Regions from separate parts of the Homo sapiens genome. Here all the other regions are linked to region 2. Evidence: fine-mapped QTL for protein levels in blood plasma. A gene starts in region 2. Each other region holds a variant in brackets. All regions are shown on one strand. Distances are between the middles of the regions. Region 1 overlaps LOC105371378 (a long non-coding RNA gene). Region 2 holds the start of CRISPLD2 (cysteine rich secretory protein LCCL domain containing 2). Region 3 overlaps CRISPLD2 (cysteine rich secretory protein LCCL domain containing 2).

Region 1 (8,347 bases), 16 kb after region 2:
CCGCCTGGCAGCAGAGGCCACCTTCACATGTGACAGTCTCAACTTACGCACCTTATCCACATGGGCTTGAGCACCTGCCCTGTGACAGGCCCCGTTCTGCAGAGCCACGCCACTCTGACACCCTTCCAGGTGCCCTCTCCACTCTCCAGCTCTTCCTTGACAGGGGGCTTGGCCCATTTCTCCGCCCTGCTAAGGGTCTGTGGAGGGCTGAATAATGGCACCCCGTCTAGGCCTGTTCCTGACTCCTGGAGCTTGCAAATGTGCCCTTACACGATGCATTTGCTCCTAGGGCGGCTGTAACTAAGTACCAGAAACAGGGGGCTTCAAACAACGCAAACGCATTTTCCCACAGTCCTGGAGGCCAGGAGTCCAAGATCAAGGTGTCGAAGGGGCCATGCTCTTCCCGAAGGGCCTAGGGAGGATCCATCTGCACATGTCTCAGCTTCTGGTGGCCGGCAATGCCTGATGTCCCGTCTGTGGCCATTCCAATCTCCGACTTCCTCTTCACATGGCCACCTTCCCGGTGCATCTGTGTCCAAACTTTCCTCTTCTTATGAAGACATCAGGCACTAGATTAGGGCCCATCCTAGTTGAGTGTGACATCATCTTAATGTGATTACATCTGCAGAGACCCTAGTTCCATATAAGGTCCCATTCTGAGGTCCCAGGTGGACATGGATTTTTGGGAAACGCGATTGGACCCAGCATTCATTGTAACGGGGCCTCTGCAGACGTGATTCTGCTAAGGGTGGTGACATGGGAAGAGCGGCCTGAATTCTCCTGTGGCCCCCACGGAATCACAAGCCTCCCTTGTAAGAGGGAGGCCAGAGGGTCAGCGTCAGAAGAGAAGGTGCTGTGATGATGGAAGCCGAGGTTGGAGTGATGCACTCTGAGGATGGACGAAGGGGCCATGAGCCCAGGAGTACAGGCAGCCTCTAGAAGCTGGAAAAGTCAAGGAGACGATTCTCCCCTGGAGGTTCCAGGAGCAACCAGCCCCGCCCACACCTTGACTTTAGCCCAGTGATGCCGATCTCAGACTTCTGACCTCCAGAACCGTAAGATGGGATACTTAAGCTGTTTCCAGCCGCCAACCTTGTGGTCACTTGTTACCGCAGCCATGGGAAACCAGATGCATCCATGAAGAGCTGTGTCTGTGACACGGCGTCGGCAGGGCTGCAGAACCGGGCTCCTGCGCCGCCCTTCCAGGGGAAACAGCCATGAATGAGCCCTCAGGCAGCCAACTGTTTCCCTGCAGAGCACCCGGGCCCGGCAGGCAGCCGGCTCCCAGACCACACACACTCCGCACAGTCCTGAGTCATCTGGCCTGAAGGTGCTTCCCTAGAGCCTCTTTACCGGAAATGGCCTGCGTTCGACCTGATTATTTTTCTAGCAATCGATGAACACTTCCCAGATGCAAAATTGGATAGCGGCCAGTTCCAGGCTGTGCATGGCCCAGGACGACCAATGCAAGAGCCTCCGGGGGGTTCTCTAGCCCGAGTGGTGTCACTGCATTCCCACTGTCCCCGAGCACCCACGGCATCACCGCCACCATCAGGGGAGCCTGAAGTGCCTGCAGAAGCTCTGGCCAGGCCCAGGGGGTGGACAGGAAGTCCAGTCATCCTCGGCATCCTGTGAACCGCTGCTTCTTGCATTTTTAATCTCGGCGGGTCCCACTTGCGTGTCTGAAAATGCAACTGCCTTATTTTCCCTAACAGGGCAGTTGAGGGGTGGGGTAGTACTTAACCTTGACAACAGGACATCTCTTGGTTTCTTTTTTTTTTTTTCTGAGTCGGAGCCTCACTCTGTCACCCAGACTGGAGTGCAGTGGTGCAATCTCAGCTCACTGCAACCTCCGCCTTCGGGGCTCAAGTGATTCTCCTGCCTCAGCCTCCCCAGTATTTGGGATTACAGGCATGTGCCACCATGCCCGGCTAATTTTTGTATTTTTAGTAGAGACGGGGTTTTATCATGTTGGCCAGACTGGTTTCAAACCCCTGATGTCAAGCGATCTGCCTGCCTCAGACTCCCGAAGTACTGGGATTACAGGCTTGTACCACCATGCCTGGCTAATTTTTGTATTTTTAGTAGAGATGGGGTTTCACCGTGTTGGCCAGGCTGGTTTCAAACTCCTGACCTCAAGTGATCCGCCTGCCTCTGCCTCCCAAAGTGCTGCTTACAGGTGTGAGCCACCATGCTCAGCCTCAGTCTCTCTATATCATCTCTGTTAATTTGCAGTGGTCTCTGCAGCAACTAGCCCACCCATGTGCACTCAGAGCCACTCAGGGCCCTCGCTCTTTCCCTCCTTCCTCTCCTCTCCCCCTAGATGAGTGGGAAGGAAGTTTAGGGACTTCACGGTTTTGCAGAGAGGCAAAGACGGAGCCCACCCACCGATCTTTTTACATGACAGGAGCCGTGATTAATTTCCCGGGGATGTCCTAATAAACTGCTGCAAACTGGGTGGCTAGCAATAGAGATGTGTTCTCTCCCGGTTCCGGAGGCCAGCGGTCTGAAATCAAAGCGTCTGCAGAGTGGAGAGAGGGAAGATCCTTCCTGCCTCTTCCAGCTTCCAGGGGCCCCAGGTGTTCCTTGGCTTGTGGCCGCATCACTCCCATCGCTGCCTCTGTCCTCGCGTAGCCTTCTTCTCTTCTTATACGGACATTCATGGTTGCACTTAGGGCACACATGGTCATCCAGGATGGCCTCATCTCAAGACCTTCTATTGATTACAGCAAAGATACTTTTTCTTTCTTTTTTTTTTTTTTTTTTTGAGACAGAGTCTCACTCTGTTGCCCAGGCTGGAGTGCGGTGGCCTGATCTCGGCTCACTGCAACCTCCGCCTCCCAGGTTCAAGTGATTCTCCTGCCTCAGCCTCCCGAATAGCTGGGACTA[C/T]GGGCGTGCGCCACCACGCCCAGCTAATTTTTGTATTTTTAGTAGAGGCGGGGTTTCACCATGTTGGCCAGGATGATCTCAATCTCTTGACCTTGTGGTCCACTCACTTCGGCCTCCCAAAGGGCTGGGATTACAGGCGTGAGCCATCGCAGCCAGCCTATTTATTTATTTATTTATTTATTTTAGATGTGGTCTCGCTCCATCACCCAGGTTGGAGTGCGGTGGTGTGATCTCGGGTCACTGCAACCTCCGCCTCCTGGGTTCAAGCGATTCTCGTGCCTCAGCCTCCCGAGTAGCTGGGATTACAAATGTGCACCACCAAGTCCGGCTAACTTTTGTATTTTTAGTAGAGGTGGGGTTTCACCATGTTGGCCAGGCTGATCTCGAACTCCTGACCTCAGATGATTCACCTGTGTCGGCCTCTCAAAGTGCTGGGATTACAGGCATGAACCACCGTGCCCAGCCAGATTCTTTTTCCAAATAAGGTCACATTCACGGGTTCTGGGCATCAGGGCTTGGATATATCATTCTGGGGGCCACCAGTTAACCCACTCCAGCAAGCTTGGACATACCGGGCCACATCGGCCTACAGGGCTTGGGGAGTCACCCAGGCTGGGGCTGCTCCACTGTGCACGAGGGCTGTCCTCCACCTTGCACTGGAGGGAGCTGCCTCGTAACACGTTCGCTCTCAGCCTCCTCCTTAATCTGCCTCCTCCCTTGACTCCAGGGTCCCGACCAGGGGCAGAAGCTCTTTTTCACCTGTCCGCTCACCTTGCTGGAGCTGGGAGGGAGGATTTTCCACCTTCTTATGTTTGGGGTGTTCCTTCCATGAGGCACTGGGTTTTCCATCCCCTCTGGCTGATAATAAGTTTGAAGTTCAATAGGCCTGACCTTTTTTTTTCTTTTAAATTTCTCACTGACTTTGTTGTTTTTTTGTTTTTGTTTTTCTTTTTGTTTTTGTTTTGAGACGGAGTCTCGCTCTGTCACCCAGGCTGGAGTGCAGTGGTGCAATCTTGGCTCACTGCAAGCTCCGCCTCCTGGGTCCACGCCATTCTCCTGCCTCAGCCTCCGGAGTAGCTGGGACTACAGGCGCCCGCCACCATGCCCGGCTAATTTTTTTGTATTTTTAGTAGAGACAGGGTTTCACCGTGTTAGCCAGGATGGTCTCGATCTACTGACCTCATGATCCGCCTGCTTCGGCCTCCCAAAGTGCTGGGATTACAGGCGTGAGCCACCGCGCCTGGCCCTTTTTTCACTGACTTTGTAAAACAATCGTTTTTTTAAAAAAAACTTTTAATTTCCAGGGTACATGTGCAGGATGTGCAGGTTTGTTACTTAGGTAAACGTGTGTCACGAGGGTTTGTTGTACAGACTATTTCGTCACTCAGGTATTAAGCCCAGTATCCATGAGTTCTTCTTCCTGATCCCCTCCCCGCTCCCACCCTCCACCCTCCGACAGGCCCCAGTGGGTGGTGTTCCCTTCTATGCGTCCATGTCTTCTCATCGTTTAACTCCCACTTATCAGTGAGAACGTGCGGTATTTGGTTTTCGGTTCCTGCGTGAGTTTGCCAAGGACCACGGGCCTGACTCTTGATGCAAAAGGGGTGCAAAGGATGTGGGCAACCCCGTTCCCCTCTTCATTCCTTCCCAGGGCTCTGGTCTCACTGAGAACTCTAAAAGCTAAACAAGTTGCTTTCCTGCTGAGGTTCTGCTAAGCTTTCCTAGTCCCCCGAGGCAGGTAGGGGCTCCAGCTGAGGAGGAAAAAGGTCGGCTAGCCAGAAATTCAAATGACGGAAAGACATCCCTGTGTTCTAAGAAATAGGATCCCCTGACGTCCACCGACCTGGGCAATGTCACCAATAGGAGGCCTCAGAAGCACTTTTAACATCAACCTTACAGGGGGTGGGGTTTATACACAAGCACGTGTACCCATTTAAGTGGACAGCTGGATGAGGAACAGATGTCTATACCCGCCCAACTACCACCATGATACAGAATGTTCCCATCACGCCCATCTGCGTCCCACCTCCCCCAGCAACCATGGATCTGCTTTCTGTTGCTTTGCTGTAGACTTGCTTGCCTGTTCAAGAATATTCTGTAACTGGAAGCATACGGCATGGTCGAGGACTCCTTTTTTTTTTTTTTTTTTTTGAGATAGGGTCTCGCCCTGTTACCCAGGCTGGAGTGCAGTGGCGTGATCTCAGCTCACTGCAACTTCCGCCTCCCAGATTCAAGCGATTCTCCTGCCCCAGCCTCCTGAGTAGCTGGGACTACAGGCAAGTGCCACCACGCCCGGCTCATTTTTGTATTTTTAGTAGAGATGGGGTTTCACCATGTTGGTCAGGCTGGTCTCGAACTCCTGACCTCGTGAACCACCCACCTCGGCCTCCCAAAGTGCTGGAATTACAGGCACGAGCCACCACGCCCAGCCAGTCGAGGATTCTTGACTCCTCTCTTCCCTTCCTGCTCCCCTGAAACTCGTCCCACACCTGGTCCACTTGACGCAGGTAGAAGCCACATCAGTCCCTCCTTTCTCCTGCAGCCCATCCGCCATTTTGGTTGGGGGCTCTGGACTCACCCTATGGGGAGGCGCTGTGGCCCAGTGGCCAGCTGCCCACCTCCTGGGTTTGGATCCTAGCCCACCATTTCCTCACTTGAGACGCTGGGCATGTTCCTCAGGCTCTCCAGGGCTCAGCTTTCCTCATCTGGGGAATGGGGCTGAGAACATCAACCTCCGTGCTTCAGGAGCAAACAACAACACTAAAAGTTCTGGCTGGGTGCGGTGGCTCACACCTATAATCCCAGCACTTTGGGAGTCCGAGGCAGGCAGATCATCTGAGGTCAGGAGTTCGAGACCAGCCTGGCCAACATGGTGAAACTCCGTCTCTACTAAAAATACAAAAATTAGCCAGGCGTGGTGGCGCATGCCTGTAATCCCAGCTACTGGGGAGGCTGAGGCAGAAGAATTGCTTGAGCCCCGAAGGCAGAGGTTGCAGTGAGCTGAGATCGCACCACTGCACTCCAGCCTGGGTGACAGAATGAGACTCTGTCTCAAAAAAAAAGAAAAAAGTTAGCATTCCCTGAGGGTGAGCACAGTGAGCTCCCAGCTGGTCAAGCCTGGCCAATGAGGAAAGATTTTTAAATGAATGCAAATATATTTCTTTTTATGCTAAAATTAAAATTAATAATGCCTATTTCTTTTTTTTTTGAGAGGGAGTCTCGCTCTGTCGCCCAGGCTGGAGTGCAGTGGCTCGATCTCGGCTCACTGCAAGCTCCACCTCCCGGGTTCATGCTATTCTCCTGCCTCAGCCTCCCAAGTAGCTGGGACTACAGGCGCCCGTCACCACGCCCGGCTAATTTTTTGTATTTTTTTAGTAGAGACGGGGTTTTACCATGTTAGCCAGGATGGTCTCGATCTCCTGACCTAGTGATCTGCCCACCTCGGCCTCCCAAAGTGCTGGGATTACAGGCGTGAACCACCGCGCCCAGCCAATAATGCCTATTTCACTCGGTTGCTGTGAGGTTCAAATTAGGCATGTAAAATGCCTGGCTGTTTCTTTCTTTTTTTTTTTTTTTAAAGAAAAACCTACACATGTTAATTATTTTAATTGTTCCTCTTCTCTGGTCTCCACTTTGCAGCCAGAATCATTACCTGAAAACCCAAGCCTGACCAGACACTTCCCTGCCCATTAATGACCTTAGTTATCTTCATTACTGGCAACTTTCTGGGTTCATCTCTCTCTACTGCACCCAGCTCCCTGCCCCATACCCTCCCCACCCACCTGCAAGCACATGCACCCCTCTACACATCAGTAGCACTAAGCTTTTTCCTTCTCTCTGAGCCCACAGGGGCCTTTTGTGCCACTGGACCTTTGCACATGCTCTCTCTCCACCTGGGAAACCCCACCTTTCAAGACCCAGCACCGACATCACCTCCTCTGTGAAGGCATGTGGTTGGCAAGGTAGGCAGTTGCTTCTATCTTTTGTCTTCCTTAGCAACATCTTGCTGTCATGCAAATTGCTTTGCTCACCTGTTAAAATAAATGAGGTGAATTGAATTATCGGTTCTGGTTCTCCACTCTGCTGTCTGTTCTACAGCCCAATGGCCTTGGGGTCTACCATGGCCTCGTGGTGGGCAAAGAGTACTTTCCACCTCTTGACTTTGAGCTTAGCCATGTGACTTGCTTTGATTGATGGGCTTCCGCCATGGCCACAAGGAGAAAATGCCCCAGGCAATCCACGGGTCACAGAACAAAGTGTCCAGTAGAATTGGATCCATCCTGTAGCTTGAGCCCAGCATAGATCAGGTGACCCCACCCCACCCCATTTTCCCAGATGATTTGCAGACAGAGAGCAAGAATAAAGCCACAGAGTTACAGGTGGTTTGTTACTCAGCATCACCGTGGCAATAGGTAACTGTGACAATTGTTCCATCTCCTCTTTTACTTCGAGCATCTATAAGCTGGAGACCACGTCTCACTCCCTGGGTATCCCCAGTACCAGCATAAGGCTGATATTTGAAGGGGAAGGAAATTTCAGAGGGCCCTGTGAAATACTGATTGTTAACTTCAGCCAGCAGGGAAAGAGACAGAAACAGGAAATCCAAGCACTGGCAGGCCCTCCCAAAGATAGCTTAGGGGCCAAGATCATAGGCCTGGTAATTGGACAGCACAGGTTGGAATTCCAGCAACTTCCTTCAGTTCACTGAGATGCCACTTCATCAGCCATGGAGGGGAGCTAAGAATCTTGTCAGTCTCACAGTGTTGTTGGGAGGATTAAATGATTGAATGTAGGCAAATCCCTGCATATAGTGTTTGGCACGTTGCCAGTTCCTCGAAGACACTCCATCAAATTGATATTGGAGAGACATGCAAAGTAACCCAAGAACTGTACTTAGCAATGACAAGAACTGGAGAGCATTTATTCATGAAAAGTATCCTCTGGCAAGGGAAGTTTTCGAGCAGAATACACAACTTTAGAGAGAGGGCTTAGCAGGAGCATAAGGAAGGCGAACACACCGTTCCTGACAGAATACTCACCTTCAGGACCTTCCACGACCTTCCATGACCTCATGTCTCCTAAATTTCCAGGATTATCAAGTTTGCTCTTCTGATGATTCAAATCATAGAAACTATAATTGTGAGCTTAGGAAAAAAAAAATACTTAACTTCTGGTCTAGGTTTTATTCTGTTTCCTAATGATAACTGAAGGTAAGTCCAAACATGCAATTTTTTTCCAAACATGCATTTTTCAATTGATCTTTTCCTTAATGAGTCATCTCATGATTGGCCTCATTATTTTAGAAAAATCATCTATTTTATGTATATCCCTAATGAAACTTCAACTTTTTACATATCTGCAAGCAAATAATATAGATAAATTGGAATCAGACAGGCAATGCAACTAATCTAAAAGAAGACAAGAAAATGGGGAGAAAGTAACAAAGAAGAGATAAGAC
Region 2 (5,000 bases):
AACATGGCCCATCCTATTAACCACCACCCAGATCTACCTGTCCCTTGCCTGTCCCAGAACTCAGCGTGCTCTATTTAAGACTTTACAACGTGCTTTAGGTCCCTGTCCCTGGAAGGTCTGAGCATCTGTTCCACTCAATGAACTGAAGACGAAGTGAAATATGCCCAGATTGAATTTTCCTTTCCTGACAAGCCGTCAGCCCGTTTGAGTGATCCTGGGTTTGCACATCTGGGACTGATCAAAAACCAGTGCGTTTGCAAAAGAAGAAAAAAGAAAAAGAAAGAAAAAGCCTCCTGAGTCTGGCGCAGGCAGACATGCAGACACCTCCCACACACAGCAAATGACGCTGGTGACAGAGGAAAGAAAAGTTCCAGTTCCCACAGGCCAAAGAGGTCAGTGCCCTGCCTCCAAAAACTTTCTGACCTCCAAAGACGTCAGAGGGTCCTGCCTCCAAAAACTTTCAAATGCAACTTACAAAGGGCCACATACTTAATTTGTGGTCTTTTGAGGGATGAAGTGCAGAGGTTTTAAGAGACCTCGCAGTCTTCTTCCCTAGCTCAGGCCTTCCCAGTCAAACCAACTCTCCTCTCCAGGACAGAGGCAGGACTCAGAACCAGCACTGATTTGGGTCCTGGGACGGGGCTCTCAGTACCTGTCAGCAATGTTGAGCCCAAGCCCAGGGTCAGTTGATCCCCTCCCAGCCTCACCCCAACAGGGACCAGGGACCCAGATCCCTGCCAACGTTAAAAAAACTCCCACATGGCACAGAAAGCCTCAACTAGCAGCAAGCTCTGCTGGGACAGTCATGTGGCTGGTCATTAGATGGGCACCTTCCCCCAGAATCTGGGGCAGGGCCCAGCCTGGACGGCAGCTCTACCCCGCCCTGGCTGTGTCATGTTGGGCACACACCTTAATAATTCTGAGCCTCAACTAACTCCTTGTAAAAAGTGCCCAGCTAATAGAGCAGGCAGTGAGCTCATCCGTGGAAACCCTGGGCATGTCTGGTCTGTACTAAGCATCATGTAAATGTCAGCTGCTTGTATTATTACAAATGGCATTATTACTATTCCTACTCTCACATCTTAAGAAACTCTGAAAAAATCAAAATCACCCTCTTGGTTTCTCCTCCCTGGGTACATTGTCCAGTGGTTTTAACTGGAGCCCCTGTAAGACAAAACATCACCTGTGTGAAGGTCAGGTTCATGGGTGGAGTTGGCAGTGGGCAGGGAAGTGTCTTAAAGAAAGCAGGGTCAAGAGTGCAGATAGGACCCACCTGGGGGTGACAGCATTCCATACCAGCTGGGGGATCTTAGGCAAGCACTTCACCTTGCTGAGCCTCAGTTTCCTCAGCTGTGAAGTGGGCATCAAGAGGCCTACTCCCCGGGGTGTTGCAGCGATGACAATACAGGTAAACTGCGTGGCACAGACCGCGTGCCTGCCGCACAGGCAACACAGTCACACACCCACCCCTTCTCCTGAGTGGGAACAGCCAGATCAGGGGCAGAAGCAGAAAATCAGGTGCATACAACCCAAGGAGCCCTGGGACAGCCGACAGTCACAACTCATGGCCTCAGTCTACTGGAAAGGACCACGCCCCGGTCCTGTTCTGCAGGCTCTCCTCACTGTCAGACATCAGACCCTGGATGGGGAAAGCAGGCTCACCCCATTCTACCAGGGCAAGAGGTCCAAAGGCCCAAAGGGGAAACTCACAACCCCACTCTCGGTTGCAAGGCAAGCTAGGCATTTGCACGGGATGCTTCTCTCAGCCAGGGCAGCAACTCACATTTTGGCTGAGAGACGCCCAATTCAAGTTGGACTGCGATGAGCAGGCATCAGCGAAGTCCTCCCTGGCTTGTCCACCAGCCCAGCCTTAGCAAGGGAGGCTCTGGGTCTGCAGCACATGAGGGACTAGCCCTGGCTCTGTCCACGTGGGACGACCGATCTCCCCCACACTCCAGAGTGAGCCCTCCGCTTCCAGGGTAACTCTCCCCACGCAGGAGTTATGCAGGTGCCCGCTCTGGCTAAAGAAACCCAGAAACGTGTTCCCCCAGACTGCAGAACCCTGACATGGCCCCAAGTCTCTACACATCCATTTGAAGCTCTGGAGACAGACAGAGCTGGGTTCCAGCCCTGGCTCTGCCCGGACAACTTACTTCACCTCTCTGACCCTCAGCATCTTCATCTGAAATGTGGGAAGAAGGCTACCTTGCAAATGAAATCACAGAGGGGCGTGGCCCTCTAAACTGCAGCTGAATGCACATGCCACTAGATCACCCTGGTCCTCCAGACATGAGTAGGACACATTCTAATGCCTGCCATATCCATGCCATCAGCTTTCCAGTTATTGACACCCACTACGAACACAGGAATGCAACAAATGCTAGTGAACTGCACGAGGAAGGCAAGAGAGTAAACAGCCTCTAAGGAGCAGGATTCTGCGCTCAGATCGGCGTTGAATCCTGGGTCCTTGGAGTCCTGGCTGCGAGGTCCTGGACAAATGAGTTGTCCTCGCTGAGCCTCAGTTTCTCCATCTGCAAAAGGGCATGTCGCAAAGCTGTGTTCCGCTATGCAAGCAGAGCACTCGGTGTGGTGCCAGCACACAGTCAGCCCTGCGAGGTGGCATCTGTCCTAGTTATTCCAGCTTCTCGGGGGGGTAACAGTTTGCAAAAGGGAGAAGCATGGAAATCACACTTACCTCCGCAGGGCTCCAATCACCAGCTCGCTGGCGTCTCCCGCGTCCAGCAGACGCGGTAGCAGCGGCGACAGCGCGGGCACAGCAGGCACAGCGGGCACAGCGAGCAGACAGCTCAATAGGAGCAGCCGGAGACGCCCTGGGATGCGAGTGGGTGCCGGGGCTCAGCGTACCGCCTCTTGTAGGCTCCCCGGAGCCCGGAGGCCACGCCCCCAGATCGCTGGCGGCGCTGGTAGGACCGAGCATCACCGGCCCCGCCCCCGGCCCCGCCCCGCAGGCTCAGCGGGCTGAAGGAGGCGGGGGGCAGCTGAGGCGCGGGCGCCGGGTGGGCGAGGAAGGCGGGGCCGCTGGCCTCCAGGGCCGGCTAGGGACAAGGAGACGCTCAGCTCCCTCGCCACTGGCCACACAAGCATAGTTTTCATTGAGCGCTTACTATGCGCCTGGCGCGGTGCCAAGCGCTTCCCACAAGGGGCTTGCAAATTTACCAAACCCCAGCTCTCTGCAGCTCAACTGGAAAATAGGAATAAGGAGGCGACCTCCCAGGATTTTAGCAAATGAAATCCGCAAGGGCTGGGCGCTGTGAACTGTGGCGCGGTGCAGAGTACACAGTTACTGAGGTGACTCCCACCCTCTACACGTGCTCAGAAAACTTAGGCCCCCTCTTCCCAATTTGCAGACGAAGAAAGGGAGACTTGTTTCCGGATGGGGCCGCTAGCGCGGGGATCCAGGCTCCGCACTTTACCTTCAACGACCCTAGGACGCGTTCCCAGGAATCCAGGGAGGTGGAAATCACCTCATTTCACAGATCCAGTAGCTGAGGCTTGGAGAAGAGCGTGCCCCAAGTCCCGTAGCTAGGAGCAGTGCAGCATGTTCATATCTCTTTTGCCCGGAGGCATTTAGCATTTTTAACCTGTGCAGGTACATACGGAAATCAATTTAGAGCCAGACGAAATCACCTTTGAAACAGGTAAATCCACGTTCCTTAAGAGCTAAGGGACTGCCCCGTGCTCCCGCCTCAGTCACAAAATGTGGACGGGTATGCAGGCACTGCGCGGTAAGGTGCTGGGGCCCAAGGGCAGGAGGGGGCCTGTCCGCACTGCTCATCTCCGCACCAAGACACCGGAATTAGCTCCTCCAGCATTAACTCATTCCCCAAATACCCATCGAGTCGCTCTGTGCCGGGCCCTGTGCTATACAGCAGGCACAAACAAGACACCTCCGGGATCTCAGAGTCTGGGGCCCCCACGAGCTAGGGCACGTGGGAGAAACAAGGATGGGGAATGGGTGGAACAAGGACTATGGAAGGCTGCCTGCGTGACGTGGACTCAAACAGGGAAGGCTTGCCTAAGATTTTGGTGCGGCTCAAATGCAGATACAGAATAATGCAGACTGGCCGGGCGCGGTGGCTCACACCTGTAATCCCAGCACTGTGGGAGTTTGAGGCGGGCGGATCACCTGAGATCAGGAGTTCGAAACCATCCCGGCCAACATGGTGACACTGTCTCTACTAAAAATACAAAAATTAGCCGGGCATGGTGGTGCATGCCTGTAGTCCCAGCTACTTGGGAGGCTGAGGCAGGAGAATCGCTCGAACCTGAGAGGCAGAGGTTGCAGTGAGCTGAGATGGCGCCATTGCACTCTAGCCTAGGAGACAAGAACAAAACTCCATCTCAAAAAGATAATAATAATGCAGATGTTTTCTGTTATCTTTTTTTCCTCTTTTTGTTTTACTTTTCTCAGTCTTTGAAGCATCATTCTTCAGAGGCACTCAACTGGCATGCAGTCATCCAATAATTAAGCACCTACTATGTGCTGGGCTCTGTTTCAAGCACTGGAGGGCTCAGTAGTGAATAAGACTGTTCCAGAACAACAGTCCTTGGATTGACAAAAGACAAATCCAAGGGGAGAAGAGATCTGTGTTAGCAGATGCCTTTGGAGGCCTGGCACGATGGCTCAGGCCTGTAATCCCAGCACTTTGGGAGGCCCAGGCAGGTGGCTTGAGTTCAGGACCAGCCTGCAACATGATGAAATCCAGTTGCTACAAAAAGTAGCCAGCATGGTGGCATATGCCTGTGGTTCCAGCCACTCAGGAGGCTGAGGTGGGAGGATTGCCTGAGCCTGGGAGGTGGAGGTTGCAGTGAGCTGAAATCGAGCCACTGCATCCCAGCCTGGGTGACAGAGCAAGACCCTATTTCAAAACAAAACCAACCAACCAAACAAACAAACAACAACAAAACAGATGCCTCTGAGTACCTGACCCCAAAGCATTATACTGCCAAATCCTGCCACCCCCAACAACCCTCCAGGC
Region 3 (5,000 bases), 49 kb before region 2:
GCCGCGTGTGGTGGCAGGCACCTGTAGTCCCAGCTACTTGGGAGGCTGAGGCAGGAAAGTCACTTGAACCCTGGAGGCAGAGGTTACAGTGAGCAAAGATCGTGCCACTGCACTCCAGCCTGGGCAACAGAGCAAGACTCAGTCTCAACAAACCAACAAACAAACAAACAAAACCCCAAGAAAGAGTCTGACTCCATCACGCAGGCTGGAGTGCAGCAGCGCAATCACAGCTCACTGTAGCCTCAACTTCCTGGGCTCAGGTGATCCTCCCACCTCAGTCTCCCAAGTAGCTGGGACTACAGGTGTGCACAACCACACCCAACTAATTTTGGGGGTTTTGCCATGTTGCCCAGGCTGGTTTCGAACTCCTGGGCTCAAGCAATCCACCCACCTTGACCTCCCAAGGTGCTGAGGTTACAGGCACAAGCCACCATGCCTGGCCTGCAAGGATTTTTTAATAGGGTAAAACTCAATGATGGTGTTGCTGTTCATGGAAGTGTAAATCACTCTAATGTTTAAGAAAATCTTTAAGAAAGACTTAAACATTCATATCCATTAGCTCTTCAGCTTCCCTTGTAAATATATATTCCAAGCAAAAAGTCAAGAAAGCCAGACCTGCAAGCATATCCCAACTATTTATTTATCATTTTTTAATTTTTGAGACAGAGTCTCATTCTGTCACCCAGGCCAGAGTGCACCAGTACACCTCGGCTCATTGCAGCCTCCACCTCCCAGGTTCAAGCGATTCTTGTGCCTCAGCCTCCCGAGTAGCTGGGACTATAGGCATATGCCACCATGTCCAGCTAATTTTTGTATTTCTAGTAGAGACAGGGTTTCGCCAGTTGCCCAGGCTGGTCTCAAACTCTTGGCCTTAAGTGATCCACCCGCCTCGGCCTCCCAAAGTGCTGGGATTACAGGCTTGAGCCACCGTACCTGGCCGCAACTGTTTATAATGGTGAAAAGCTGGAAATAAGCCAGCAGGTGGCAAAGCAATGGCTAAACACATTCATGTACAGTCGTGTGTCAGAGTATCAGGCAGTCACTAAGCATGAAGTGCGTGAAGAATATTTGGAAAATACTAAGTGAAAATACATAAGCAGCCTAGGCGCAGTGGCTCACGCCTGTAATCCCAACACTTTGGGAGGCCAAGGCGGGCAGATCACTTGAGGTCAGGAGTTTGAGACCAGCCTGGCCTGGTGAAACCCCATCTCTACCAAAAATACAAAATATGAGCCGGGCATGGTGGCGTGTGCCTGTAGTTCCAGCTACGCGGGAGGCTGAGGTGGGAGAATCACTTAAACCCGGGAAGCAGAGGTGGCAGTGAGCCGAGATCATGCTGCTGCACTTCAGCCTGGGTGACAGAGCAAGACTCCAACTCAAAGAAAAAAAAAAAACAAAATACATGGGCAGCATTAGCCTCATCTGTACACAGAAAAAAAGACTGGAAGGAAATACATCAAATTGCTGCTGGTATTGATGAGATTTTGGAACACATTTTTTTCTTTCTACTTTTTTGTTGTTGTTATTGCTTTCCTGAATAATTATTAATGAGCATAGATGCCTTTTCAAGTCAGAAAAAAAACCCACTGACTACTATTTTTGTAAAAGCACCATGAACAGAAAACAGGTGTGCCAGACTGTGGGCCGGCTTCTACAGAGAGAATGAGGATGCTCCCACAGTGGCACACTGGGGCTGAGTAACTTTTCTTGACTGGAGGCCTTTAAGAGCCTTTGTGTGGACAGATTCTTGCCTTCTCCCTGCATGGGGAGTGCCCCACCCACCCCAACTCTGGAACTGCCTCGATGTTGTCTGACAAGGAATGTTCTCCAATACGTGCTCACCTTTTTCCACTGAGTACTACTCAGGGGTGATGCTATCGCAATGTGCTTAGCATTCAGAAAGATGCGTTGCCACAAAAGGACAACTCCGGCTTCTCAGCAGCCCAGACGGGGCAGTGCACACGGCGGAGGCCCCTGCCAGGCGCTGCCTGCTTTTTCCCAATTCGCCCAGCACAGAGACATGCAAATGCTACCCTAACACTGAGCGCGAGGTTTTAGGCACTGTTATTCCACTGCTGACTGTTGACACATGAGGCTCATCTCACCAACAAACGACAGTACCACATGTGAGCCCACTGAGCCGCCTCATCCCGGCTGCTCCAAGTCCATCTCATCACAGTCCTGCCAACGTCTAAGTGAAGTGTTCTCCTGGCAAACTGAATTCCAAACCCTTGCGATATAAAACCGAAGATTCAACCTTCCCTTTTTAACATGTGCTTTAAATAACTCGATTCAGCTTTCGGCAAACTGATGCCAGAATTCGTAGGAAGACGAGCAAGGTCCCCTCTCCCAATGACATGGTTTTCCCATTTGACTCTGAGGGTGTGCGTGCGGCGGCTGCACCTGTTGGCTGTTTACTACCACAAAGAACAGCCCAGCAGTCACACTGCCAAAACCAAATGCGTTCTTTTTGGCAGACAGCGTTCATCATCTGAATGACTGCAACAACTAGATGGATTTATTCATCTACCATGGGGGGAATATACCGGTGGCCCATCTGTCTGGTGGGGCCCACTGGGAGCAGCCTGCTCAGATCCTGCAGCATTCCCATAGGATCTGCCAACGGCCGAGGCGAACACATGCCCAGACACTGCCCAGCCCTAACCCCTGTTCTGCCTGCTGAGAGCAGCTTGCTAAATATGCAACAGCAGGACAGCCCAGCATAGGCCCAGAGGCCACAGTGGTAGGACAGCCCAGCACAGACTCAGAGGCTACAGTGGCAGGACAGCCCAGCACAGGCTCACCTGTTACACGTGGACCCTTTGCACCTGTCCTTCA[T/A]CTTGGTGTCACATCTGACGACTTGGGCTAGGAGAGAAATGCGGGAATACATGTCACGGCACGAAACCAGGAGGGTGAGAAGACCCTTCCCCATGCTGAGGGACATTCTGGAACATTCTGCAATCCAATCCGTGCTATACTAAGAGCAAGGGCAATGCCTGATGGTTGCAGGCTTCCGCTGGGGGCTCAGACCCCAGGCCCACCGCTTTACAGTAGCAGTGTGACCTTGAACAATTTGCTTCCCCTCTCTGAGGTTCAATTTCCGCATATGGACAATGCGGACAGTGACAGTACCCACCTCCAAGGGCTTTTGTGAACCTTGAGAGAGAAAGTGAACTCTGGCCTTGGCAGGGTGCCTGGCACACACGATGTGCCTGTGGTCCCACAGGGCTCTGCAGGGCAGGACTCCTGAGAGGGTAGGGAGGATGCTGCTCCGAGCCTGTGGGGCCGGAGACCCAGCCAGGCTCACCCGAGTCATCTCCCCCATCGCCAAGATGCCTTTTGCAAAGCTTTTTGCTTTGTTTATTTTATGGGAACATATCAGAGTCTCGGAGTCGTGTTATAGTTTGAAAAGGGACATAAACGTTGTATGTTATTAAAAGAAACAATGGCACCGTTTTGAACTCCTGGACAGACAAGGGCCTCCGCAGGTTTCCTGGTCAAAGCAAGCTACAGAATGCTTCGGCATCACAGGGAAAGAGGTTTGAAGAGGACAGAAAGACTGGTGGGGGCAGGGGAGATGGTAGTTATGAAAAGAAGAGAGGGGCTCTGAGAAGGCGGGTGTGAGGCTGTTCCTCAAAGAGGGGTCCAGTTTTAGGGCCTTTGAGGCTTGCGGGGCAAACGGGGAGAGCCAAGGGCATCCAGCCCAGCCCTCCAGCCCCGCCTGAGCAAAAACGCCCCTCCACAGCCCCCGGCCTGCAGAAACGGCGGCTGCAAATGAGTTCCCGCAGCAGTGGCTGGGGGGAGCTGAAGGGGAGCTGAACTCCACCCTGGGGCGGTGAAGGCAGACAGAACAAAAGCTTGGGGAGCTGAGGTGCCCAGGGAGCCAAAAGGCCAAAGGTGAGCAGGGGAAGAGTCAATATTTTGGGGATTCCTGGAAGTCCCAGGGGGAAACATCTCCCTTTCTCTACTAAAAATACAAAAATTAGCTGGGCATAGTGGTGGGCACCTGTAGTCCCAGCTACTCAGGGGGCTGAGGCAGGAGAATTGCTTGAACCCGGAAGGCAAAGGTTGCAGTGAGCCGAGATCATGCCACTGGACTCCAACCTGGGTGACAAGAGCGAAACTCCATCTCAAAAAAGAGTTGTAGGCAACTCTGCAATGATCTCAATGTACAGGGAGACCTCAGCTGGCACTGGGTGACCCGTGTTGCTGCAGCTCATCCTCCGGGCAACCTTGATGTGGCATCTCTATCCCCTACTTCATGGATGCGCCAACTGAGTCCAGACCCAGGACCTGGTGAGAAAGGAGTGGAACCTTCCAGAGCCAGGCTGGACGCTGCCTGCCCTCTGCAGGGCCAGCGCTTCCCAGAGGAACCCAACTTCAGCCCAGGTCCCTTTTGAAAGGACAAGGGAAGGTCTAACCTTAAAATACCTGCCTGGGTGTGGGGAAAATGCCACCCAAGCACAAGTCCTATAATGCTCGCTTTTGAAATGACTTAAAAATATCGTTTTTGAAAAACGTCTTATGGTTGTGCCTCCATGAGCTTCGCCGCACCCTGTTTGCCACTGCCTGTGGATTTGCAGACCTAAATCCACTAGCTCCCCTCCTCCACCCACCCCGTCCCCTTTGGAGGTGGCTGGGAGGGCAGGAGGGGCGGAGGACGGCCTAGACTCACTCATGTAGTTGACCGCAGAGGTTTTCTTGGGCTTGGTGGGTCTCATCACCCTCGGTTGGAGCCAAACATGGTTTTCTTCAGGAATGGGAGCCGTTTCCACCTCATTCATCTCGTCCGTTTCAGGTTTTGGAGTGTAGGTTTCTTCTTAACATTGGAGAGGGAGGAAAAAAAATAACACACTGGGATTCAACAAAAACGCACTTTGGGGAAAAAAAAGCAATTTGAAAACTAAACGTGTTTGAGGTTTGGTTTTACAAAGAATCATTTCAGCGGCAAAGAGAAAGTTACATTTCAGAACAGACCTGGCCAGGTGGAATTCTACCAG

Evidence for each region. PIP is the posterior inclusion probability: the model's chance that the variant is causal. Sun 2018 read protein levels with aptamers (SomaScan).
Region 1: its variant is fine-mapped to the plasma level of the CRISPLD2 protein (Sun 2018, PIP 0.95).
Region 3: its variant is fine-mapped to the plasma level of the CRISPLD2 protein (Sun 2018, PIP 0.95). The variant lies in the coding sequence of CRISPLD2. If it changes the protein, the assay may bind it differently, which can mimic a change of level.

Annotation. Positions count from the first base shown.
Region 1 is chr16:84,799,698-84,808,044 of GRCh38, reverse strand. LOC105371378 (a long non-coding RNA gene) reads right to left here. Exons shown (of 3, transcript XR_001752293.2): 3 at 7,783-8,033. Among named protein-coding and RNA genes, the nearest start is that of CRISPLD2, 16 kb to the left of the region's middle. RefSeq lists enhancers at 874-1,450, 1,451-2,029, 3,197-3,697 and a silencer at 1,290-1,489. The variant C/T (reference allele first, on the strand shown) is at 2,890.
Region 2 is chr16:84,817,829-84,822,828 of GRCh38, reverse strand. CRISPLD2 (cysteine rich secretory protein LCCL domain containing 2) reads right to left here and starts at 2,844. Exons shown (of 15, transcript NM_031476.4): 1 at 2,696-2,844. RefSeq lists a silencer at 2,882-3,071.
Region 3 is chr16:84,866,716-84,871,715 of GRCh38, reverse strand. It overlaps CRISPLD2 (cysteine rich secretory protein LCCL domain containing 2), which reads right to left. Exons shown (of 15, transcript NM_031476.4): 7 at 4,676-4,819; 8 at 2,805-2,865. Among named protein-coding and RNA genes, the nearest start is that of CRISPLD2, 49 kb to the right of the region's middle. The variant T/A (reference allele first, on the strand shown) is at 2,839.